Homo sapiens: one gene and its partners. The protein of the gene in region 2 purifies or fractionates together with the protein of the main gene of each other region. This does not show direct contact. Each region holds a gene or a part of one and is shown on either strand. Other genes may lie near its edges.

What was found.
Region 1: the proteins of CCDC183 (region 2) and RUNDC1 purify together in Homo sapiens (affinity purification with mass spectrometry; 3 studies listed by BioGRID and IntAct, with this or other methods). This does not show direct contact.
Region 3: the proteins of CCDC183 (region 2) and CEP131 purify together in Homo sapiens (affinity purification with mass spectrometry; 3 studies listed by BioGRID and IntAct, with this or other methods). This does not show direct contact.
Region 4: the proteins of CCDC183 (region 2) and CCDC14 purify together in Homo sapiens (affinity purification with mass spectrometry; 3 studies listed by BioGRID and IntAct, with this or other methods). This does not show direct contact.
Region 5: the proteins of CCDC183 (region 2) and NDE1 purify together in Homo sapiens (affinity purification with mass spectrometry; 3 studies listed by BioGRID and IntAct, with this or other methods). This does not show direct contact.
Region 6: the proteins of CCDC183 (region 2) and DIAPH3 purify together in Homo sapiens (affinity purification with mass spectrometry; 3 studies listed by BioGRID and IntAct, with this or other methods). This does not show direct contact.
Region 7: the proteins of CCDC183 (region 2) and NDEL1 purify together in Homo sapiens (affinity purification with mass spectrometry; 3 studies listed by BioGRID and IntAct, with this or other methods). This does not show direct contact.

The regions. Positions count from the first base shown.
Region 1 is NC_000017.11:42,990,565-42,993,103, reverse strand, and holds part of RUNDC1 (RUN domain-containing protein 1), read right to left. Parts: intron 2,257-2,539; coding exon of another isoform or gene 2,254-2,256; coding exon 1,388-2,253; 3' UTR 1-1,387. UniProt on the Homo sapiens protein: May play a role as p53/TP53 inhibitor and thus may have oncogenic activity.
Region 2 is NC_000009.12:136,795,120-136,799,137, reverse strand, and holds the start of CCDC183 (coiled-coil domain-containing protein 183), read right to left. Parts: upstream 2,801-4,018; 5' UTR 2,741-2,800; coding exon 2,671-2,740; intron 37-2,670; coding exon 1-36.
Region 3 is NC_000017.11:81,202,466-81,205,965, reverse strand, and holds part of CEP131 (centrosomal protein of 131 kDa), read left to right. Parts: intron 1-2,358; coding exon 2,359-2,472; intron 2,473-3,500. UniProt on the Homo sapiens protein: Component of centriolar satellites contributing to the building of a complex and dynamic network required to regulate cilia/flagellum formation.
Region 4 is NC_000003.12:123,954,730-123,958,229, forward strand, and holds part of CCDC14 (coiled-coil domain-containing protein 14), read right to left. Parts: exon of another isoform or gene 2,067-3,500; coding exon 2,011-2,066; exon of another isoform or gene 1,699-2,010; coding exon 1,626-1,698; exon of another isoform or gene 1,387-1,625; coding exon 1,317-1,386; exon of another isoform or gene 1,237-1,316; coding exon 1,114-1,236; exon of another isoform or gene 1-1,113. UniProt on the Homo sapiens protein: Negatively regulates centriole duplication. Negatively regulates CEP63 and CDK2 centrosomal localization.
Region 5 is NC_000016.10:15,670,745-15,674,244, forward strand, and holds part of NDE1 (nuclear distribution protein nudE homolog 1), read left to right. Parts: intron 1-1,664; exon of another isoform or gene 1,665-2,027; intron 2,028-3,500. UniProt on the Homo sapiens protein: Required for centrosome duplication and formation and function of the mitotic spindle. Essential for the development of the cerebral cortex.
Region 6 is NC_000013.11:60,153,929-60,157,428, reverse strand, and holds part of DIAPH3 (protein diaphanous homolog 3), read left to right. Parts: intron 1-3,500. UniProt on the Homo sapiens protein: Actin nucleation and elongation factor required for the assembly of F-actin structures, such as actin cables and stress fibers. Required for cytokinesis, stress fiber formation and transcriptional activation of the serum response factor.
Region 7 is NC_000017.11:8,452,884-8,456,383, forward strand, and holds part of NDEL1 (nuclear distribution protein nudE-like 1), read left to right. Parts: intron 1-1,912; coding exon 1,913-2,004; intron 2,005-3,500. UniProt on the Homo sapiens protein: Required for organization of the cellular microtubule array and microtubule anchoring at the centrosome. May regulate microtubule organization at least in part by targeting the microtubule severing protein KATNA1 to the centrosome.

The DNA of each region.
Region 1 (2,539 bases), on a different chromosome or scaffold from region 2:
GTGCTCAGTGAGTCACAACCTGAGGAACAGCTGCTGGTTACCGATTTGTATTCCTGTATATACTCGACTTGGGTAGCCAGGATTTTCTCGTTTGTCTTGAATATATTTACTTCTAAAAAGACTGTTAGTCTTGTTGGGAGGTGAGCAGAGGAATGTTTACTTGCTGGAGAACATAGTAACAAACATCACTTCTCACCCCTCATAAACAGAAAGCCCATTGTCTGTGCCATGAAAAGAGGACTACCTTGTCAGGAAGATTTTACTTACCTCTACAAGAAAAAGGACTCGTATTAAAATCGACCTGTGGTTACCACCCTTAGAAATGCTGTTTTCAGATATTCCTATTCCTAGTCTTAGAGGCAGCCATGGAATATATAGTCTCCTCTGACCTTGGGGTCAGGAAGAAAGGGAAATCTATTCATAAAAGGAATTTAAATTCTGGCCTAGGCCTCTCAAACCTGCTTCAAGTGAAAGAAGATAGCTTAACTAACAGGAGCCTCAAGTTGAATGTCTTTTTTTTTTTTTTTTTTTTTTTGAGATGGAGTCTCCCTGTGTTGCCCAGGCTGGAGTGCAATGGCATGATCTTGGCTTACTGCAGTCTCCACCTCTCGGGCTCAAGCGATTCTCCGGCCTCAGCCTCCTGAGTAGCTGGGATTACAGGCATGCACTACCCCGCCTAGCTAATTTTTGTATTTTTAGTAGAGATGGGGTTTCACCATGTTGGCCAGGCTGGTCTTGAACTCCTGACCTCAGGTGATCCGCCCACCTCAGCCTCCCAATGTGCTGAGATTACAGGCGTGAGCCACTGTGCCTGGCCTGATTCCTTTAATACAGGCTCAAGCACAAGTGCCCACACGTATACTGTGGGTACAACCTTCTTTTTTTTTTTGAGACGGAGTCTCACTCTGTCGCCCAGGCTGGAGTGCAGTGGCGCGATCTTGGCTCACTGCAAGCTCCGCCTCCTGGGTTCACGCCATTCTCCTGCCTCAGCCTCCCGAGTAGCTGGGACTACAGGTGCCTGCCACCATGTCCGACTAATTTTTTTGTATTTTTAGTAGAGATGGGGTTTCACCGTGTTAGACAGGATGGTCTCGAACTCCTGACCTTGTGATCCGCCCGCCTCGGCCTCCCAAAGTGCTGGGATTACAGGTGTGAGCCACCGCGCCCGGCCTGGCAGAACCTTCTTAACAAGAGGGTCCCTCCAGCACATCTTTCCGAGAGCTAAGTTGGTGGGGAAAACAGACTTTGCACTCATTTGGCCGACTGCCTGAGCAGGGTCTGGGAAAAATGCCTTTAACCCCACCTCTGATTCCTTGCTCCTATGCTAGAAGACTAGCACATCTATCCCTACTGAACAAGGAGCTTGTCTGGGGTTAGGGCACTCTCATCAAAAGGCATCTTTGATGTTTTTGAGCTGGCGCACAGCCAGATCTACAGGGAGGCTAAACTTGAGGCTGCTGAGGCGACTGAGCAGGTTGAGGGCACTCTCAAAGCCTGTGTGTGCCATGTAGCTCCAGGGCTGGTAGTGAGGCTCGATGAGTGACCCGGACTTGCAGATGAGGTTCACCCAGGACACCAGACGCTGCTCATTCAGTGCCATGCACACCAAGGCCTTCAATTCTGAGTCTGCACTGCGCTTAAAAGGGTCATGCTCTGTCAGCACCATGTGGATGGCTGTCAGTAGGCTCTGTTTGGGGGTGACAACAGTGCCTCCCGTAACAGGAAGGGCGAAGGACTGGGAGAGCTTCCGGGCTGGGGATTCCACATAAGCACGGCCGTTCTTAGCATGGTAGTACTTTACAAAGAGCTCCCACGGGTGCATGGCCTCTGGGGCCGAGGAGAAGGCTGGCAGCAAACAAGCAATAGGAGCCATAACAAGGCTCATCCCTGGGGAGGAGGCATACAGTCCATGGGCCAGCAGGTCCCTCACAGCCACCGTTAGCTCCTTCCGCACAGCCATAGTCAGCTCATCCTTGCCTCCCAGAGAGAGGTCCTGGAGGTTGGCAGAGGTGATGACATGGTCATGTGGCTGCTGCCTCAAGGCTAGCTGCTTCACTCTGTCCACTGACACCTCCAGCCTCTTCAGCAAGGGAGAGTAGTCTCTGTCAGCCTGGACCCTCTGCCACAGGGTTGGAGGGATCTGGCCTGTGGCACAACCAAACTGGCTAACAGCAAAGATCTGGAGCACGGCCAGCGCTCGCCGCATCAGGTGCAGCCCCGTCTCCCGGACTTTCTTCACATCCTCTGCCTTTGCTGCTTAGAAAAGACAGTGGCTCATCAGTGAGAGGCCATGATGGCACAGAGCTACACTCAACAAATCACAGGCTGAGATCAGTCTGAGCCACATGCTGGGTCTCACATGAAGGCAAGAGCCACCCAGGATGTAGCTGGACTTCCTTTTTCTGGTTAATAATAGCTGTATTGAGATATAATTCACATACCATATGATTCACCCATTTAAGGTGTTTAATTCAGTGGTTTTTAGTATATTCAGAATTGTATAACTGTCACTGCAATCAATTTTAGAATATTTCATCCT
Region 2 (4,018 bases):
CTTTCACCCCTTGGATCTGGAGTGCCCGACACTGCTCTGTGGGCAGGTGGAGGGGACACAGTGGCTAGGATTGGGCCAAGGGCCTGGCCTGGAATCCCCTGGGGGAGGCTTGCATCAGGGAGGCCCCAGGCCCCAGGGTCCAGGGGGATGCCCCCTCCATGGCCAAGATCCCTCCTCCCGCCCTGTCCTGGGGGACACCGCTCCACTGCCCAGCAGCAGCTGTCTGAAGGGCTCTCAGTGGACAGGTGCGGGGAGGTGGACAGGTGGGGAGGGTGAGGCAAAGGAGAGGGATGGCAGGGTCCTGTGGTCCCGTCCAGATTTGCTGCCCATGGAAGCAGGTGGGTGTTTTCCTGTCCATTCTGGCTTTGGGGCCCGTGTTGCTCTTATGCTCACGTCTCCTTGAAGCCCCTCTCTCTGATTTAGTCCCTCCATGCAGGTCCCTTTGATCCCTTCTCCCAGCTCTGTCAGGGAGTGGGCAGTAGGGGGGTCTGTTTTCCCCTCCATGTCCTGGATTGTCCCTGTATTAAAACTAAAAGTCCTAGGCCAGGAGCGGTGGCTCACACCTGTAATCCCAGCACTTTGGGAGGCCGAAGTGGGCGGATCACCTGTGGTCAGGAGTTCGAGACCAGCCTGGCCAACATGGTGAAACCCCATCTCTACTAAAAATACAAAACTAGCTGGGTGTGGTGGTGTGTGCCTGTAGTCCCAGCTACTCAGGAGGCTGAGGCAGAATTGTTTGAACCCAGGAGGTGGAGGTTGCAGTGAGCTGAGATTGCACCACTGCACTCCACCTGGACGACAGAATGAGACTCTGTCTCAAAAAAATAAATAAGCTAGGCGCCGGTGGCTCATGCCTGTAATCCCAGCACTTTGGGAGGCCGAGGCGGATGGATCACCTGAGGTCAGGAGTTTGAGACCAGCCTGGCCAAGATGGGTAAACCCCGTCTCTACTAAAAATACAAAAATTAGCTGGGCGTGGTGGTGGGCACCTGTAATCCCAGCTACTCGGGAGGCTGAGGCAGGAGAATCACTTGAACCCGGGAGGTGGAGGTTGCAGTGTGCTGAGATTGCACCATTGCACTCCAGCCTGGGTGACAGAGCGAGACTGCGTCTCAAAATAAATAAATAAATAAAAATACAAATACGAAAATTAGCTGAGTGTGGTGGCGTACACCTGATGTCCCAACTAATCAAGAGGCTGAGCCAGGAGAATCGCTCGAACCCGGGAGGTGGAGGTTGCAGTGAGCCGAGATCATGCCACTGCACTCGAGCCTGCGTGACAGAGCGAGACTCTGTCTCCAAACAAACATCCCCTAAAAGTGAAGGGGGCCTGCCCCTCCACACCTGCGGGTATTTCTCGTCAGGTGGGATGAAGACTGAGAAAAGAAATAAGACACAGAGGCTGGGCATGGTGGCTCACGCCTGTAATCCCAGCACTTTGGGAGGCTGATGCGGGCAGATCACGAGGTCAGGTGATCGAGACCATCCTGGCTAACACGGTGAAACCGCATCTCTACTAAAAATACAAAAAATTAGCCGGGCATGGTGGTGGGTGCCTGTAGTCCCAGCTACTTGGGAGGCTGAGGCAGGAGAATGACGTGAACCCAGGAGGTGGAGCTTGCAGTGAGCCGAGATCGCGCCACTGCACTGCCGTCTGGGCAACAGAGCAAGACTCCATCTCATAAAAAAAAAAAAAAAAGACACAAAGTATAGAGAAAGAACAGTGGGCCCAGGGGACTGGCACACTCAGCATGCGAGGACCTGCACCAGCCCTGGTCTCTGAGTTCCCTCAGTATTTACTGATCATTATTTTTACTATCTTGGTGAGGGGAGTGTAGCAGGGCAACAGGTGGTGAGAACGTCAGCAGGGAAACATGTGAGCAAAGGAATCTTTATCATGAATAAGTTCAAGGAAAGGTACTATGCCCAGATGTGCACGTAGGCCAGATTTGTTTCACGTTACACAAACATCTCAGTGTAGCAAAGAGTAACAGAGCAGTATTGCTGCCAGCATATCTTGCCTCTAGCCACAGAGCGGTTTTCTCCTATCTTAGAATAGAACGAATGGGAATGGTCGGCTTTACACTGAGACATTCCATTCCCAGGGACGAGCAGGAGACAGATGCCTTCCTCTTATCTCAACTGCAAAGAGGCCTCCCTCTTTCACTACTCCTCAGCACAGACCCTTTACTGGTGTCGGGCTGGGGGATGGTAAGATCTTTCCTTTCCCACGAGGCCATATCTCAGGCTGTCTCAGTGGGGGGAAACCTTGGACAATTCCCAGGCTTTCCTGGGCAGAGGTCCCTGCGGCTTTCTGCAGTGCACTGTGTCCCTGGTTAATCAAGAATGGAGGATGGGGATGACTTTTACCAAGCATACTGCCTGCAAACACATTGTTAACAAAGCACATCCTGCACGGCCCTAAATGCATTAATCTTTGATTCAATACAGCACATGTTTCTGTGAGCACAGAGTTGGGGCTAAAGTTACAGGTTAATAGCATCTCAAAGCAGAAACAATTTTTCTTAGTACAGATCAAAATGGAGTTTCTTATGTCTTCCTTTTCTACATAGACAGTAACAATCTGATCTCTCTTTTCCCCACAAAAAGTTGTGCACCCAGAAACCCCCAGACGGGAAAGGGAGACTGGTCACGGCGGTGCAGGCTCACCCTGGAGCTGAGTGATGGTCTTCAGCTCCTGGGTCTGCTCTTCCACATCTGTCTCACTGTGCCTCCTCATGGCTGCTCTCAGGCCCCCCAAGGGACCCTGTGTACCTCAAAGCCTCCCTGGGCTCAGCTTGCTCAGAGCCGCCACTCAGATTGTCCCCAGAACCTCAGCCCATTATGATGAGAGCCAGGATTCTCAGTGCCTGGGCAACCCTGGAATTGCAGGGCCTCCTGCCTCACTCTGCCCCCAGCCACCTTGGGGTGGCCTCCAGACATGTGTCCTAATTGAAATGAGTCTCCTGGCAGCTGCTCGAGGCTTAGGAGCTCTGCCGGGCGGATGTGCTTTCTTTGAGGGGGAGGTTTGTGATGGGTCTGCAGCACCGGCAGCTCACACCTGCACTGGGTTCCCTCCCTGGCCCCTCCCATGCCCCAAGCCATCCTCCACAAAGCAGCAGGCCGAGCCTCCTAAAACGATTCTGATACTATTCTGATACTGCCTTACGGGACCTCCCTCTGCACCCCCCACCCCCAGCCCCAAGTCCAAACTCCATGCACTGGGTAACCTGGCTCTTGGGACACCCCCACCTTATCTCTTCTGACTTCTGTCCCTGACCTCTCTGTGCTGTCTGGAGCCCACCCTGCTTCACCCCCACTTTCCTTTGGGAATTACTGGGTCTTGGGTTCATGTGTCACTCCAGAAAGGGTATGTTCTCCATCTCTGCACCCCCTCCACCCTTCCCTTAGAGGGGAGTACCTGGAGCACCAGGCAGCCTGGAACTCTGTGGGGTATGCACGAGATGGGGTACACACGAGATGGGGTACTTTTTCCCAGCCTTGCCTTAGTAGGCTCAGGCGGCCATAACAAGGTGCCACTGGCCAGGTGTGGAGGCTCACGCCTGTAATCCCAGCACTTTGGGAGGCTGAGGTGGGTGGGTCACCTGAGGTCAGGAGTTCAAGACCAGTCTGGTCAACATGGTGAAACCCCGTTTCTACTAAAAATACAAAAATTAGCCCAGTGTGGTGGTGGGCGCCTGTCCCAGCTACTTGGGAAGCCGAGGCAGGAGAATTGCTTGAATCCAGGAGGTGGAGGTTGCAGTGAGCTGAGATCGCGTCACTGCACTCCAGCCTGCGTGACAGAGTAAGACTCCATCTCAAAAAAACAAAAAACAAAAAAACAAAAAAACAAGGCGCCACCGACTGGGGGATGTGAACAGCAGCCTGGAGGCTGGGGGCTGAGATCACGGGTCAGCAGGGCTGGTGTCTCCTGAGGCCCCTCTCCTTGGCTTGCAGATGCTGTCTTCTCTGTGTCCTCACGTGGCCGTCCCTCTGTGTGTCTGTGTCCTAATTTCCT
Region 3 (3,500 bases), on a different chromosome or scaffold from region 2:
CCAAAGTGCTGGGATTATAGGCGTGAGCCACTGCACCCAGCTCAATTCTTGCTTTTTAATTTATTTTTAAGTTAGAGGCAGGTTCTCATCTGTCACCCTGACTGGAGTCCACGATCATAGCTCACTGCAGCCTCTACCTCCTGGGCTCAAGAGATCCTCCCCCTTCAGCCTTCGGAGCAGCTGGGACCACAGGTGCACAACACCACTCCTGGCTAATTTTTAAATTTGTTGTAGAGATGAAGTCTCGCTGTGTTGCCCAGGCTGGTCTCAAACTCCTGGGCTCGGGCAATCCTCCTTCCTTGACCTCCCCAAAAGCCCTGGGATTACAGGTTTGAGCCCCCACACCTGGTCCTAAAATTTACCTTAGTATTTATCAGTTATATGTTCATACACAGCCAAAATGTCAAACAGCACCATAGGCTTAAAATGTGCTGCCCCTCCTACCCTCCCCACCCCTGCCCCTCCTACCTCCCCTCCCGCTGCCCCTCCTACCCCCGCGCCGCCCCTCCTACCCCCCCACCCCTCCTACCCCCATCCCGCTGCCCCTCCTACCCCCCACCCACTGCCCCGCTGCCCCTCCTACCCCACTGCTGCCCCTCCTACCCACACTCTTGCCGCCCCTCCTACCCCTGGCGCCTGCCCCTGAGGAGCAGCATCTTTTCAAGCTATTTCTTCTGGTGTTTTTTTGTTTGTTTGTTTTTGTTTTTGAGACGAAGTCTCGCTCTGTCGCCCAAGCCAGAGTGCAGTGGTGTGATCTCGGCTCACCGCAACCTCCGCTTCCCGGGTTCCAGTGATTCTCTTGCCTCAGCCTCCTGGGTAGCTGGGACTACAGGCGTGTGCCACCACACTAGGCTAATTTTTGTATTTTTAGTAGAGACGGGGTTTCGCTATGTTGGCCAGACTGGTCTCGAACCCCTAACCTTGTGATCCACCCGCCTCAGCCTCCCAAAGTGCTAGGATTATAGGTGTGAGCCACTGCGCCCGGCCATTTAGTGTTTTATTGAAAACATTTATGAATACATGCCATGCTGCTCATTCCTGAACAGCTCAAAATCAGTCCTGGTAGGTTATTCACACCACCCAAATTGGCAGATGAGCCGCGCTCCAAGAACCAGCTGTTGAACGTTTGTGAGTGCAGGCTGGTGCCAGGTGCAGGCCAGGCTGGTGCTGGGCGTGGGCTGGTGCCTGGTGCGGTCCGGTGCAGGTGTGGTCCGGTGCAGGTGTGGTCCGGTGCAGGTGCAGGCTGGTGCAGGTGTGGTCCGGTGCAGGTGCAGGCTGGTGCAGGAGCAGGTTTCGTGCATTGCTCTGCTCTCTGCTTATCCTCATTCCCATCATGTTCTGTTGGTTTGATTTTGGGCCTCTGACATGTTGGTCTTTGCCCAGATGTCTTGGTGGTTCTTGTTAAAAGGGAGGCCCTAGGAGTTAGCTGGAAGCCTATTGCCTGGTGGCTTCACTTCGGGGCACTGGTGCAGAGAGCAAGGCATTGTTGAGTATCCCCACCTACCAGTGTCTGTGGGACCCTCCTCACAGGCTGAGTCTCTCCAGAGACAAACCCCCAGCCCGCCCCAGGGTTCGAGTCCTGGCTGCCCGGTTGCACTGCTGGGGAGGGGTGGCGGTGGCTGTCCTGGGTGAATCACCCATCTCTGCCCCACCTGCAGGGCCAGCTGGGGAGGGCAGGGTGGATGCTAGCGGCTCAAGTGAGGGAAGGGGCTTTGCCGAGCAGCCAGATTCTCCCCTTTGCCTCAAAGCCTGTCCATGCCTGTGGGAGAACAGTGTGTCTCCGTGGGGGCACGGGACCTGCCAGCTCCTCGCCCTCCCTCCCCACAATGCCTGGACCCTCCCTTGTGTCCCAGTTGCTCTCTGCTGGCCCTTCTGTTTCTAATCCTCCAGGTCTGCAGATGCCCCTTTCCTGCAGTCTCCCCATCCCTCCTGTCAGCCTCGGTATTGGTCCTGTCCTCCCGCCTTCCTGCGGGTCTGCGGAGGGGCAGAGGCAGAGAATGTGGCTTCCATCCGTCGTGTGGGATGGGGCTTCGCTTCTGTGAGTCTGCTCTGGAAGCTGATTGTGAGCTGCTGGCCTGAGCTGCTCCCCCCGTCTTGGGCACGTCCAGCGTTCATGCCTCGATTCTATCCCCTGCCCCGTGGGAGCCCCTGGTCCAGCTTTCCTGTCCTGGGAAGAACCCCATCATCAGGGCGCAGGCTGTGGAAGGGGCCTGGGGACACTGGACGACAATGCTGCCAGCACGTAGCAAGCACTGAAGGCCTTTGTTCCCTCCCAGCCCGTGCTGCGAGTGTAGCTCTGAGATCTCAGGCGTCCCCTCCAGAGGCCTGACCATTCCTGTCTCTCTTCCGGCCTGGCAGGAGCAACAAGGGAGCAGTGGGCAACTGCGTCACCACCATGGTGCACAACCGCTACACCCCCTCGGAGAGGGCGCCTCCGCTCAAGAGCTCCAACCAGACTGCCCCCTCCCTCAAGTAAGGTCTTCTGGGGAGGCCGCGGGGCTGCGGGGTCCGACCTCAGTTAGGGCATGTAGTCAGTGCACCTGGGGTCCGACCTCGGTCAGGGCACGCGGTCAGTTCACACAGGGTTCTACCTTGGTCAGGGCATGCGGTCAGTGTGCATGGGGTCCAACCTCGGTCAGGGCACGTGGTCAGTGCACGTAAAACCGCGTGGAGCAGCTGTGAACCGGGCTCCCCATCCACGTCCGCCGCCCTCTTCTGTTCTTGGGTCGGCAGCTTCCCACAGAGAGAAAACAGCCCAGATGTGGCACAGTGAGGTCTGGGGCTCACCCTGAGGTGGGGCCCCCAGGAGGAAGCCAAGGCTTGTGCAGAGCCCAGAAGGCGTCACAGCGGGGGTGGACCGAGCGGGGCAAAGGAGCCCCCGAGTCCACCACCACATGGTCTTGCGGGGATTGGGGATGGCCTTGGGGTTGCTCAGGGGTCCCTCAGGCTCTGGACTCCTGTGACTTTTGGGAACTTTCTCAATGGAATTTTTTTTTTTTTTGAAATGGAGTTTCATTCTTGTTGCCCAGGCTGGAGTGCAGTGGCATGATCTCGGCTTACTGCAACCTCTGCCTCCCAGGTTCAAGCGATTCTCCTGCCTCAGCCTCCCGTGTAGCTGGGAGTACAGGTGCCCGCCACCATGCCGAGCGAATTTTTTTGTGTTTTTAGTAGAAATGGGGTTTCACCATGTTGGCAAGGCTGGTCTCGAACTCGTGACCTCAGGTGATCCGCCCGCTTTGGCCTCCCAAAGTGCTGGGATTACAGGTGTGAGCCAGGGCACCCAGCCTCTCAATGTAACTTTAGTGAGAAGTTTTTAAATGCAAAGAGCTCATTATCCTGGGTACCAGTGAGTGGGACCTTGTCAGGGCACAGGTGGTCCAGAGGCCAGGATGTGGCACGGGAGAGCCGGCCTCGCACCTGCCGCTGTCCCCCTCTGCCCCGGCTGCCAGCCTGCCAGCACCACTTCCAGGCTCAGTCCTGGGACTTCCGGGAGTGGGCAC
Region 4 (3,500 bases), on a different chromosome or scaffold from region 2:
AGGTTCACATGCCCAAGTTATTCCAAACATACTTAAAAGTTTTATAATAACTGGATCAATTATCAGTTTTCTAATTTAATTTTAAATTAAATTAAATTAAATAACATTAAAATTCAATTCCTTGGTTGTACTAGTCACATTTCAAGTGCTGAATAGCCACATGTGGCCAGTGGCTACCATCTTGAATAGCACAGGTCAAGATAATATAAAGCTATCATTACTGGCCTCCAAGATGAGTTAGGTTTCCCTTGCCTTAGTTCTCTACCTTGGGACTATCTGAAACATCAACCTCTAGTCCCATGAATGCTCTACTGACACTTTCTCAGCCTCCTTGCTTAAATCCTGATCTCTTTATAGGGCTACTGCTTTATATGACTTTCTAAACTTCATTCCTTGCCCAAGCTGAATCTAAGCACGTACTACAGTGCTGACATTTCTGGCCCACCTGAACTATAGAACTGGCTAGTCTAATTCTAGTCCATCTGAATTCCCACTGTGGACTTTTTCATCTTCATTTTGGGCTATCTTGTTTTCTAGGCCTCCAAGGGACAACATAATCAAAACTTTCTTGTTCTAAACTAGGAAAAGTTAGCCGTGAGGGTGTAAAGTACCCTTGGCTATACTCACCACCAATCAGCAGCAGCCTTTCCTTATTCATCCGATTTTACCTTCCTATGTACCATGTATCCTAACTGTGTAGCTTGACAAGTTCAGCTTGACCAACTTAGGATATATATATATATAAATATAATAATTTTAAAGCAACTACTAGAAGTATACACTTGAAATACAACCAATTTATGATTATCTATGAAAACAAGTGGCAGGGGAAACTAAGATCACTCTATATACCTCCCAAATGTCATTCTGAGTTTGAACTTTTTCTCCTACAAAACCCTGACAGTCTCTTTTTCTATTTTTCTTCTTGAGAAAATGATAGCAAGCAAAGTGGACTACTCAGTGATTAGAAGCTGAATACAGAAAGGCATAAGCACACATAAACCTAACTAATACTGATTATTAAAATGAAAATCAACTGTATAATCCTGATAATTGATCAAAATACCCACAATTAAGGATTATCTTTAAATAACTAAGAGAAAAAAGGCTTACATGTTTCTTTCTGGACTACCAAAGGAATAGTATGTTTTTCATGTCTTTTCTTTTTTGATCCGTATCTTTTGCTTTCTAAAGGTCTAGAATTAGATCTGTTTTCTAAATATGCTGTTTCTGAACCTATTAATAAAACAAAAATTTGTTACATCAAAATAATGACTTGAGATAAGGTGATCAGCAAAGAATTAAAAAAAAAAAACCTGAATCTTCATTTCTCAAAATGTCCCTCAGCAAAGAAGCACAACCATCAAGCCCGTGTACAGTTTCAGCCTGTAAGAAATAAAGTCATTTAGAATACATTTGTATATGACTGTTAGTGTAGGAAAAAATATAAATTATGTAGTTTTAAAATTTGTTTATTTACAAACTATTATTGGTAGAAAAGATGTTTTAAAGCAACAGACTTCATACTTCCTTAGAGCAATTAATACTTTGCATTTTATTCCTACTTTTTAGCTACTATTTGAAAACTAATTAAAATAGTGTGTATTGTATCTATTCAATCTTACCTGACTTTCTGAATCAGAATGGATGGAATAGCCAGAATCTGCATTAAAACGTGGTATTTTTCTTAAATAGGTCCTGGAAAACAAGCTTATTAATATTCTTACAAATATTTTTCCCAAAATATATTAGTAAGTAGTCATTTTCTTTCCAGCAAAGACAAGAAAGCTTGTCCAACCATGTACAAGATGAATTTATAAACACATTCTGAAGATCAGAAAGACTGTTAAATACTAAAATGATTAACATGGGTAGACATGAAAAATTGTTCCTCAGAGCTTGTGATGGTAGAGGCCTACCTAATTTTCTGGGGTAGACGACATGTCATCCAGCCCAAAGACCTGAAAAATTCCTTGAAATCTGAAGTTGTAAACGTCTTCAAGTACTTACGCTTTCTTTCCATTTGTTAATTTAGCAGGTCCAGTGTGCCTTCCTGAAGATAACACCTATGACATAATATATTATAGCAGATAAACAAATATTTTTCTATTATATTTTCAATATGCTATCTTGACAAAATTTAATGTCATTTTTTTCTTTTATTCATCTTCTCAAACTGAAACTCTGCATCCATTAAACAATACCTTTCCATCCCCTCTTCTCCCTGACCCTAGCAACTATCATCCTAGTTTCTATGAATTTGACTAGTCTAGAAACTTTATATAACTGAAATAATACAATATTTGTTCTTTTGTGACTGGCTTATTTCACTTAGCATAATGTCTTCAAGCTTCATCTATATTGTAGCATGTGTCAAAATTTTTCTTCCTTTTTGAGGTCAAATATATTCCATTATATGTATGTACCACATTATTCACTGTTTTAATTAATGTGATATATCCTAAAAATACACAATTATAATTTAATTCATATATTAAATTTCTTTTATGTAAAACGTCAAGCAAACTACACATATATTTGTTCCTTAAGTCTATTTAAGGTGAAAAGGAAATTGAGATACTATTTTAAACCAGAAGTAACTACTACACTAAGTTCAGACTATATTAATCCCAAAATATGTTCTATAGTCCCAAATTCTTTGAAACATGCAAGTTAATTCATGATATAGGACAGAGTTCTTAACTCTGGTTCCTTTTATGTACATTCTTTAGAATGCCTGATTAGACCAGGAAGTGAGAACTCTACCCTGTCTCTTTATCTACATCTCACTGTCTTAATTTTTCTTTTTAAATTCATATACCACTGTTGTTTTCTTAAACTTTTTTGTTTTAAAAGTGACAATAATGGACAACCTTTTGTGTAGAAAAACAGGAAAAAATAAGCATTTGCTTTTACATGCATCCAGTATCTTGGGAGTTATGCCAGAAACAGTTAATCATGGTTGCCTCTGGGGAGGGAAACAGAGTATCTGGGGGACAGAGCGAGAAGGGACACTTTCCATGGTATACTATTTTATATCTTAATAATTTTATATCAGATAAATATAATCTTTATTCAAAATAATTTTAAATAGACATGAGAAAGTCCCTGATTCCCCCCCTAGTTCCACCCTCCAGATGTAGTCACTGTTGGCAGTTTTATTTATAATTTCTCTTCACATATTTAATTTCATCTCCAGATAGCTTTGAGCTGTAACTACCAAACTTTCTAAAGTTATACGGCATTCTATTATATGCTTGAATATGTGCTCCATCCTTCTAAGAATGTCACTGAGAATACATTTTTTAAAAACTGGGTTGGTAAGAGTTATACGTCTTGAGATAACTTGGATTATGATGGAGGGTCATGAAGCCAGCAGTGAGAACCAACAATGTAGGAAATAAGACCTTGTATAACATCACACCACTGGTCTCTGCATCACACTCTCAGGGTCCTTCCCTTTGGTATATTTATGTCGATGTCTTGGCTGGAATCATAAT
Region 5 (3,500 bases), on a different chromosome or scaffold from region 2:
ACACTTGGTGCTTGGGGAGATGGGGCTGAAGGAGAGTTGATCTGTACCCATCACAGACGTGGACAAGAATGGGTGTCGGGTGGACCTTGGCAAGCCCAGCTTTACTAATGTATAGGAAAGGGTGTGGGACCAACAAATGGATTGGGGGTTTGGGGCAGGGCGGAGGAGAGGTCCCAGACACGTTGAAGGTGGTCATTGAAGCTGAAGCTTTCTGTTGGAGACCACAGAGTGCAGCTGGCCGTCTGCAGATCCATCTGCCCCATAGGTGTTGTTTGATCGCCTTCAGGGGTTTTTGTTCAGCATTTCCCCATGAACGTTTTCCAGCATATAAGGCTGAAAGAATTTCCAGTGAATACCTGTGTATCCACCACCACCTAGGCTCTACCAATAATATTTCCCCTACTTACTTGCCTTTTATTATATATATTCCCCCATCCATCAAAATTTGTAAAGCTTCCTGTAAAAAGATGGATTTCTGGCCAGGCATGGTGGTTCATACTTGTAATCCCAGCCCTTTGAGAGGCTGAGGAGGGAGAATTGCTTGAGACCAGGAGTTCAAGGCCAGCCTGGGCAACATAGCGAGACTCTGTCTCTACAAAAAAATAAAAATAAAAAATTCATTGGACATGGTAGTGCACACCTGTAGTCTAAGCTACTCAAGAGGCTGAGGCAGGAGCATTGCTTGAGCCCAGGAGGTTGAGGCTGCAGTGAGCTATGATTGTACCATTGCACTCCATCCTGGGTGACAGAGCAAAAGTTAAAAAATAAAAAACCTGAGTAGTGGTTGTTTAGAACACACATTGTTGAGTTTCCCCCAATCCCCATATCCGTGACACGGAGACCTTAGTGTCATCTGCCTCTCCCTGTACTTGGCCCACTTCACCCATTTGTTAACAGCTGAACACCTGCTACACACAATGAGCAATGATTATCGTTCTTTTTGTTGTTGTTGTTTTTGCTGTTGGAGACAGAGTCTCCCCCTGTCACCCAGGCTGGAGTGCAGTGGTGTGATCTCAGCTCACTGCAACCTCTGACTTCCAGGCTTAAGTGATCCTCCCACCTCAGCCTCCCAAGTAGCTGAGATTACAGGCACCTGCCACACCACGCCTGGCTAATTTTTGTTATTTTTTGTAGAGACGGGTTCATGTGCCCATGCTAGTCTGGGACTCCTGAGCTCAAGTGATCCGCCTGCCTCGGCCTCTCAAAGTGCTGGGATTACAGGTGTGAGCCACTGCGCCTGGCTGATTATAGTTCCTAAATTGAAGGGGACTCTGGGTTGAAAAGCTGGGTAGGAGGAAGATTAGTGGTATGAACTGCAGTTTGGAGAGGATAACAGGCCCTCCATGGATCCTGAGTAAAATATCAAGAGAATTACTCAGTAATTCTCTGCTTCAAGACTGAGCTCTTGGGCCTGGCGTGGTGGCTGATGCCTGTAATGCCAGCACTTTGGGAGACCGAGGCGGGCGGATCATGAGGTCAAGAGATTGAGACTGTCCTCGCTAACATGGTGAAACCCCGTCTCTACTAAAAATAAAAAAATTAGCTGGGCATGGTGGCGCACACCTGTAGTCCCAGCTACTCGGGGGCTGAGGCAGGAGAATTGCTTGAACCTAGGAGGTGGAGGTTGCAGTGAGCTGAGATTGCGCCACTGTACTGCAGCCACATGTCAGATGCAGGAGACTCAGAGCACACAGCACAGTGAAGAAACAGGGTACCTTGGAATAACGAGGACCCTGCCACCAGCAAGTATTTGTCAGTCACCTAAGAGAAATATATTCAGCTGGGCCGGACTTCTTAACAACTGGCTTATTCATCACGGGTTGAATGAAAAAGCCTTTAAGGGACCAAACAGAGCATCTATTGATGCCCCCATCAGCTGACAGCTTATTCGAATTAGCCCCAAATGGCAGCACAACATTTCAGCAACAGGTTTTCATGTCCACAGGTTCCGAGGAGATCTCTCAATCGCCAGTGCAGTCGGTGGAGCCCACTCGCTGCGTCCTCCTGGAGCCTGCGTTTGAATTTAGGTTAATGACTTAAGATCCTGTTTTATTTGGAGATGTTCCCAAATAAAGGGTGTGAGGCGATGAGAGCCACGCCTGGGAACAGGGCCTGGTCTGCCTCTACTTGCTGGGTGCAGATACTTCTCTGCTTACAGCCAGGAAATGGGGAGGGTGCTGCGGGCGGCAGCAGGGATGTGGTCCGCCCTCCTCATCCTTCCAACGCTGTAAATCATCTGTTTGTTCTTTCTTTGGAGTCTTCTTGCACAATGGCTCTCGCCACGCCTCTCTGGCCTAGGCACCATTACATCACCCTGGGTGCATCCGGACTTTCTAGCAACGGCTTTGTTTACTTGATTGAGTAAAGAGAAGTTGGCCTTTTTTAACTTTTAAATTAGACCTTGCGCCTTTCTTGTGGGAAGTGTTTTCTCTTATGTTTGTAGAATCTAGGATGGGTGTTTTGTGTTTTCGGTTTTGATTTTTTTTTGAGATGGGGTCTCTGTCACCCAAGCTGGAGTGCAGGGGCACAATCTTGGCTCACTGCAACCTCCGCCTCCCGGGCTCAAGCGATTCCCCTGCCTCCCGGGTAGCTGGGACCATAGGCACTTGCCACCACACCCAGCTATTTTTTGTATTTTTGGTAGAGACGGGGGTTTCACCGTGTTGGCCAGGCTGTTCTCAAACTCCTGACCTCAAGTGATCTGCCCGCCTTGGCCTCCCAAGTAGCTGGAACTACAGCCGTGCACCACTATGCCGGGCTAATTTTTGTATTTTGGTTTCGCCATGTTGCCCCAGGCTGGTGATTTTTTTTTTTTTTTTAAGCGTTGGCCTGGGCTAGAGTGCAGTGGCATGATCATAGTTTACTGGAGCCTCAACCTCCTGGCCTCAAGCAGTCCTCCCACCTCAGCCTCCCCCATAGCTAGGACTGCAGGTGCATGCCACCACGCCTGGCTGTTCTTAAATTTTCTGTAGAGATGGAGTCTTCCTATGTTGCCTAGGCTAATATGCCTCTGCCACCTGAGGTGCTGGGATTGCGGCATGAGGCACCGCACCTGGCTCTGGGTGTTTGGTGAAGGAAAGTAATTTGGAAGCAGAGCAGGAATAGAATCGAGAGAGCACGGGAACGGGCAGGTGATCTGGATTGAGATGGTTTAGGGCTGGTTAGCATAATTGCTTAAGGACACCTGCTCAGGAGGCTGGGGTTTGGTCTTGGCCCAGTCATTTGCTACTGGTTGATTCTGGGCTAGTTAAGTAATTGAGTCTCAGTGTTCATGTCTCTGAAGTGGAATTAAACGAGACAACATAGGAAGTGTACTTAGCCTGGAGGCCAGCACAGAATAAGTATGTAATGGATGTTATTGCTGCAGCTGGCAACAGGGAATCATTGAGAAGTGCGCTGGACTGTTTCTTTGGTAATTAACAAGATCTCCCTCTCTGTCTCTCTCCTCTCCTTTTCTCTCCCTTTCCCTTCCTCCATCTTCTCCCTCCCTTCTGTCTTAG
Region 6 (3,500 bases), on a different chromosome or scaffold from region 2:
AGCATTGAAAAATACAACATCTGAAAGAAAAAGGCTAACAAGAAGCAATAGCCCATTTTTTGCCTTTGGCCATAGTCAGGATGTGATGCTTATTTTGCCATAGTCTTCTGGTCATGAGGATAGCTAGCCTGAAGACAAGGCCCATGTACTGCGCTACATATGGCAGAGCAAGAATATAGGAAGGGGTTGGGTACGGTGGTGCATGCCTGTAATCCCAGCACTTTGGGAGGCCAAGGCAGGCGGATCACTTGAGGCCAGGAGTTCGATGACAGCCTGGCCAACATGGTGAAACCCCGTCTCTACTAAAAATACCAAAATTAGCCAGACGTGGCAGTGGGCGCCTGTAATCCCACCTACTCCGGAGGCTGAGTCAGGAGAATCGCTTGAATCTGGGAGGCAAAGGTTGCAGTGAGACGAGATTGTGCCACTGCACTCCAGCCTGGGTGACAGAGTGAGACTCCTCTGTCTCAAAAAAAAAAAAAAAAAAAATATATATATATATATATATATGAAGGATCTGGGTCTCTGGGCCACTATAGGTTAGGTTAACCTGGGAACTTACCTGCCACCAGACATCTTGTACTGGGAGAAAAAGAAAACGCACTTATTTAAGCAACTTCTGTTTGGAGCTTATGATACTAATCTGAGAAAGAAAGCATTGTTAGGGCTCAGAAAATTATACCCCCAAATATGCCACTTTGGACTTCAAATCGAGAGAACCTGGGGAGCCAGAAATGCAAGAAAGGGTCTTCTCTGAAGTTCCCCTATCTACCTAAAGGTTGTATCCTCCAGAAGATATTCAACTTGTGAATCTCTTTCCCAGACATCTCAAGTCAAATAGATGTATACTGAAGGAAGATTGGAGTTGACACCACACCAAGCCCAGATAAACTTTGTCTCAGACTTTCATCTCTTCTTTGGGCCCATTCATCCCCCCTAAAGATTATTTACTCATCCTGTAAATTGCCTTACATACCCCACTTCCCTCTTCCCTATGAAGAGGGTATTTAAGATTTAGCCATCTGGCCCTTGTTTGAGTTTCATACTTTGTATGACTCCACACTTGCCACACTTGCACATAATACCTTTGTATGCCTTTTCTCCTGTTTTCTTTTTTAAAGGACTTTACACAGATGATTAAGGATTTTAAAATGAGATTATTCTGGATTATCACAGTGGCCCCTAAATGCAAACACATGTATTGTTATTTGACCACAGAAGAGGAGAGAGTGTTGTGACTGCAGAGGCAGAGATTGGTAATGCAGCCATCTGAAGCTGGAAGAGTCAAGGAAGGCTACTCCCCTAGAGCTTCTAGAAGGAGAGCAGCCTGCCTTCATTTTGGCACAGTGAAACTGATTTGGGACTTCAGGCCTCCAGAACTGAGAGAATGAATTTCTGTTGTTTTAAGCTGCCAGTTTGTGGTAATGTGTTACACCTGCCATAGGAAATGAAGCTAGGTATAGTTACAAGGAGGACCATCAGATTCATTTAAATCTCTGCCTTCACTTTATTTCAGAGGGTTTGTTTGTAATTTGGGAGGACAGACGATAACCAAATTACAATAGAAAAATAAACCACCACTGGAATAACAACCAAAACCTCCATTCATGTTTTGTCTACTCTGTATTTATAGTTTCTAGGAAGCTGGGAAAAGATGGAGGTGATATCTAAATGCTCTTTTTGATTTTTTGAACTTGTTCCTTCATTGAGTTCTCAGCTTAAGTGATGCTCTCAGTTGTCCTAGGGTTAAACTGTCAAGAATTGAGATACTGTTTTTAGTTGAAAGCTTTAGGCACCTAAATTTTATTCGTGTCAGAATTCTACCTAACACACACCAGGCATTGTAAGCTTCAGAAGGAGGTAAAATCATTTTATTCAGGCTGCTGTTCTAAGAAATTGCTCTGAATTTTCCCAGCCATTCTTTCCTTTCTATCCTTCTTAATAAAACAGAAAAACCCAGAAATTTTTTTAAATAAATGATTTATCAAAAGAAACAATATATATTAAGTGGCTTTTTGGGGGATACATTTAGTTGCTGAAAGTAGATAACATATGGCATTTAATACTCCTGGACCACTCTGGGTCTTTTCTTTGACGGTAAAAAGGGGTGGGGGTAGAGATAGGGATGATTGTCTCAGATTTAGAACAGGGCTTAATTGCTTTTTTCAAAGACTCATGTCTTTAATTATGAAGCAAGCAAACTGACATACATTTATTACATGGTGAAACCTTGCATCTCATCTAGTCTATCTTGTAGCAATTGCTTCTGAACAGATGTTACCTGAAACACCTTTGTGCAGTTGGTGGAATGCTAAAATTTGTCATGCTTTTATTATTGTTGTCTTGAATTAACTCTACTTTATGGCGTAACTTTATTGCTGTGTCCTAGAATCTTTATATATTTATTGCCTTATAAATTGGATTTAAAATTGGCTTTTTATATAGAATGTAAATTAACATGTGTCTAACTTGTTTATGCTGCAGAATAATACAGGAAAAAACTGCTACGTATTACACTAATGTAATTGTCTTTAACTTAGCACATAGTATCCTCTAAACTAGGAATCAAATGAATGCTAAAGAATATGCTTATCCTTACACTCTTGCTTGTTTATCTCAGAAACTAATTTGACTTTTAGATCTATAAAATATAGATTAAGCATAACCTTTTACTTCATGGGATATTAAGGATCAAAGCATGGGCTTTCTTTGAACAGGATCTACAAAGGTAACTTTTCTTTCAGTAGCAGCAGGATGGCATTGAAATACCTTACCATTGGGAGTAATTTTTCTCAAATAGCAAATTGAATAGTCTTTATTAACTTAGGGGAGAATTTAAGAGTTTAAATAAGCTTTGGTCCTGAAACATTCATGTTACTAGTTACTTAGTGAAATCTATTTGGAAATGCTTGCCATAGATTTTATTCTTCAAAAGACCCACTGCTATCTTTTCTTACAGTTTTTTGTAGAAGAAGCGTTATGAGTAACATTTATGAGCAGTGACTTGAACCACTCTCAGGGGTTGAATCCCAGCAATATCACTTATTAGCTGTGTGAACTGAGCAATTACTTAACCGTTCTCTGTGCCTCCCCTTTCTCATGTGTAACATGGGGTTGTCATGAAGATTAAAAGTTATGTTTTGGGCCTAGAATACCTGGCTCATTGTAACCTCTATGGAAATATTTGCCATTTATAGGATTGTTGTTTTTGTTATCATTAGTAGTAACAGTAATAATAGTACAATTTTTGCCTACACTTTAGGGCATTAGGAATACATTGGATATTTGAAAAGCTTTCTAATCTTGGAAAACTTAATTGAACCAGGCTATTTCCTCTTGGTGTGCTGGAGGCAGAGCCATTCTGTTCTTAGTTCTTATCCTGGCATACCAGGTAACATTTGGATTGATGCAGAGTTCTGATCTGATGACTGAATGGTCAGAGCAAGTTTCTGAAGCTTTCTTAGGGGCCTGTTCTTTATGTCTAAAGTGGGGATAATAGG
Region 7 (3,500 bases), on a different chromosome or scaffold from region 2:
TGTGTGCCACCACACCCAGCTAATTTTGTATTTTTAGTAGAAATGGGGTTTCACCATGTTGGTCAGGCCAGTCTCAAACTCCTGACCTCAGGTGATCCACCCACCTCAGCCTCCCAAAGTGCTGAGAGTACAGGCATGAGCCACCATGCCCAGCCTACAATGTTTGTTTCTAAAAAGCATTTAAAGCAACTTACCATAAAAGCACAGATTTAATAACACCTAAAATGTAAAACTTGAATAGGGAAAAATGAGATCTAGAAATCCCTGCCAAGAACAGTACAGCGGTTTTTTATATCACGTTGAGCGCCTGTTATGTGTCATGTGTTATTCTGGATGCTGGGAGCACAGTGGTAAGACAAAGCCCCTACCTTCAATGAGATTATATTCTTGAGGAGAAGAAGGATAATAAACAACAAAAAAGCCACACAAGTATTTTCGTTGCTGATTAGCACTCTGTGGAAAACAAACATAAAAAATAATAGCTAACCTTTATTGAGTACTTACTACGTGCATTTTTAAAGTACATTAATTTAAACTTCACAACATCTTTATGATGAGGTAGTTGTTATTTGCCCCCTCTTACATATGGGTCACTTACCCAGTGGCTGAACTGGATTTGAATACAGTAGTTCAGCTCAAGAGCCGTTAATCATGATGTCATATTATCTCTTAAAAATTAAGAAATGTGCACGACTGAAAACCTTACTGAGTGTGGAAGAAGATATGGGTAAATATCATGGTAAATACTATGATTCTGAATGGGAAGACTTAATTTTCTTACAATATCCATTCTCCCCAAGTCAATCTGTAATTTCAACTTCTAATAAAAATCCTAATAGGATTTAAAAAATTGATATGTTGATATTAAAATTATTTTGGAATAGTAAATGTGCAAGAACAGCTGAGAAAAATTTGAAATGGGCTAATAACAAGAGGGATCTTTGCCTTTTGAGATCTCAAAATATATTTTAACATTATAATAAAGTAGCATACTTCTGATAGAATAGGCTAATAGTTCAATGGAACTGAAATATATTCATATATTTAGGGAATTTAGTTTATAGTTATAGTGCTATTTCAGATGAGATGAGTTTTCCCTAAATGATACTAGGACAATTGGCTCTCCATTTGGAGGAAAAAATTTAGATATGTATCTTATAGACAACTATAATTTCTAGGTGAATTAAATGATCTAAATGTAAAAAAATCAGAAAAATACTAGGAGAAAGTATGGGAAACATTATGACATTAAGATGGAAAAGCCAAAGGTTCTCCTACCGAAACACAGTGTTTACAAGATGAATGTCACGCTGAGAGATAGAACATCTATAAGAGAAAGGGTGAACATCCAGAATGTATAGAGTTCTTACAAATTGATTACAGGAAAGACAAACCAGTAGAGAAATGTACAAAGACTAAACAGCTGATTTTCAGAAGAGATTCAAATGACTAGTTACTATGGAAATAGAAACTAAAAAACGTGACTATCAAATTGTCAAAAAAAAAAAAGATAATATCTAATATTATCAAGGGCACCACCGCATAGATTGCTGATATTAGCACAGGCTTTTTAGAGAGCATTTTGGCAGTGTCTGTTAAGGTGAAAAAAATGGGCATATGTTCTGACCCAGCAGTTCTATTTTTAGGAATCTCTTTTCCAGAAATACTTGTCTAGATGTTTAAGAGTATATGTCCTTGTAGCATTACTTATAATGGCGAAAAATTTGATATAATGTAAATATCCACCAATTGGACAGTGGTTTAGCCTATTTATGGTATCTATACTTTATCCATAGTTTGAAGTAGTTTGTTGATATTGTATTGAGTGTTACACTACTTTGTAACATCAACAACAAAACCCAAATGTAAAGGGAACTGCAAGTGTAATCACTCAGCTTTTATTTTTCTCTAGCTATACCAAATGGTTTTGGTACCAGTCCACTAACTCCCTCTGCTAGGATATCAGCACTAAACATCGTGGGGGATCTCTTACGGAAAGTAGGGGTAAGTTTCAATTATTTATCACTAGGTGTTTCCACTGACAAGGTATTGAATTATTTCTTAATTTGAAGTGAGGGAAGAAAGAAAGGATACTTTCCTGTGGTAAAGGCTGTCATGAAGCTCAGAAGCAAAAGCATCCATTGACTAGCCAAGTCCAGATGACACTTCATGATGCCCCTGCAGAAGAGCCTGTACCTTGAACTCTGAGGTTCCCACCGGGGCATTCTTCCTGTTCCCCACTCCTGTTTCAACAGCACGATGCCTCTGTCCTTGTCTAGAATACTTTGTCTAAGGCCTGCTGTGTGTCTTCTACCACCCTCATCCTGGTCTTTGCTGCTGTCTACCGTCTTCCTGGTCATTCCTTTGTTTTGTGTTTGTGGGACTTTAACATTTGGCTCATGGCATTACTCTCTACTTTTAGTCTTGCCCACCTTATTTCCTTGGCCACCTCAACTTCAGTGCCTTCTCCTTGGTGTGAGCCTTGTATTCCAGAACAGTTTCGCTTCTGAAATATTAAACCCAGCCGGACGCGGTGGCTCACGCCTGTAATCCCAGCACTTTGGGAGGCTGAGGCGGGTGGATCACCTGAGGTCAGGAGTTCAAGACCAGCCTGGCCAACATGGTGAAACCCTGTCTCTACTAAAAATACAAAAATTAGTCGGCATGGTGGCAGATGCCTGTAATCCCAGCTACTTGGGAGGCTGAGGCAAGAGAATCACTTGAACCCAGGAGGCGGAGGTTGCAGTGAGCCGAGATCGAGCCACTGCACTCCAGCCTGGGCAACAGACAGCAAGACTCCATCTCAAAAAAAAAAAAAAAAAAAAAATTAAACCCGTTTTTCTGCTTAATCAGTGTGTTACTGTGTACCATACCTACTCTTTAACCTCATCAAGAGTATTACCCCATTTTTTAGTGTGTTTGTTTTTATCAGCCATCTCTTGCTTTCACTTCCTTTCTATTCATCTGTGATCTCACACATCTCTTACTCTGTCACTGTTGACTTCATGGTCTCTCTGGCCACAAAGGAGATCTGCAGTCTGAATTACTGGAAACAGTTGCAGAACCATGTGGATTTATGCCACTATCAAGTCAGCATTTCTAGCATTAGCTCCCATTACTATTTCCCTTAGTGAGTTTTACCTCTCCTTTCAGTAATCAACCATTGCCATTTCCCACTATCTACTACCCCCTTCACTTATTTTCGTGTGTGACACTTTCTAAAAAATGTAGAAATTGCATTATACTTTATCTAAAGCAGATATGGGAGGCCAAGACACAGGTCCTATGTTTGCCTGTTTCAGCTCATCATAGGGGTTATTTTCTAACCATCAGATTAAACCTGCATTTTTAAGGTTAAAATACAAAGTAAAGTGCACAGGTCGTTCCTACAGTACATAGAGTAATCTTTCTTCACTCCCAAGATAACCATTTTAAAATCCTCTATGTTGGAGTATTTGTCTTTATAACTTGAAATCATGTGCTTATTTTTCTGTTTATCT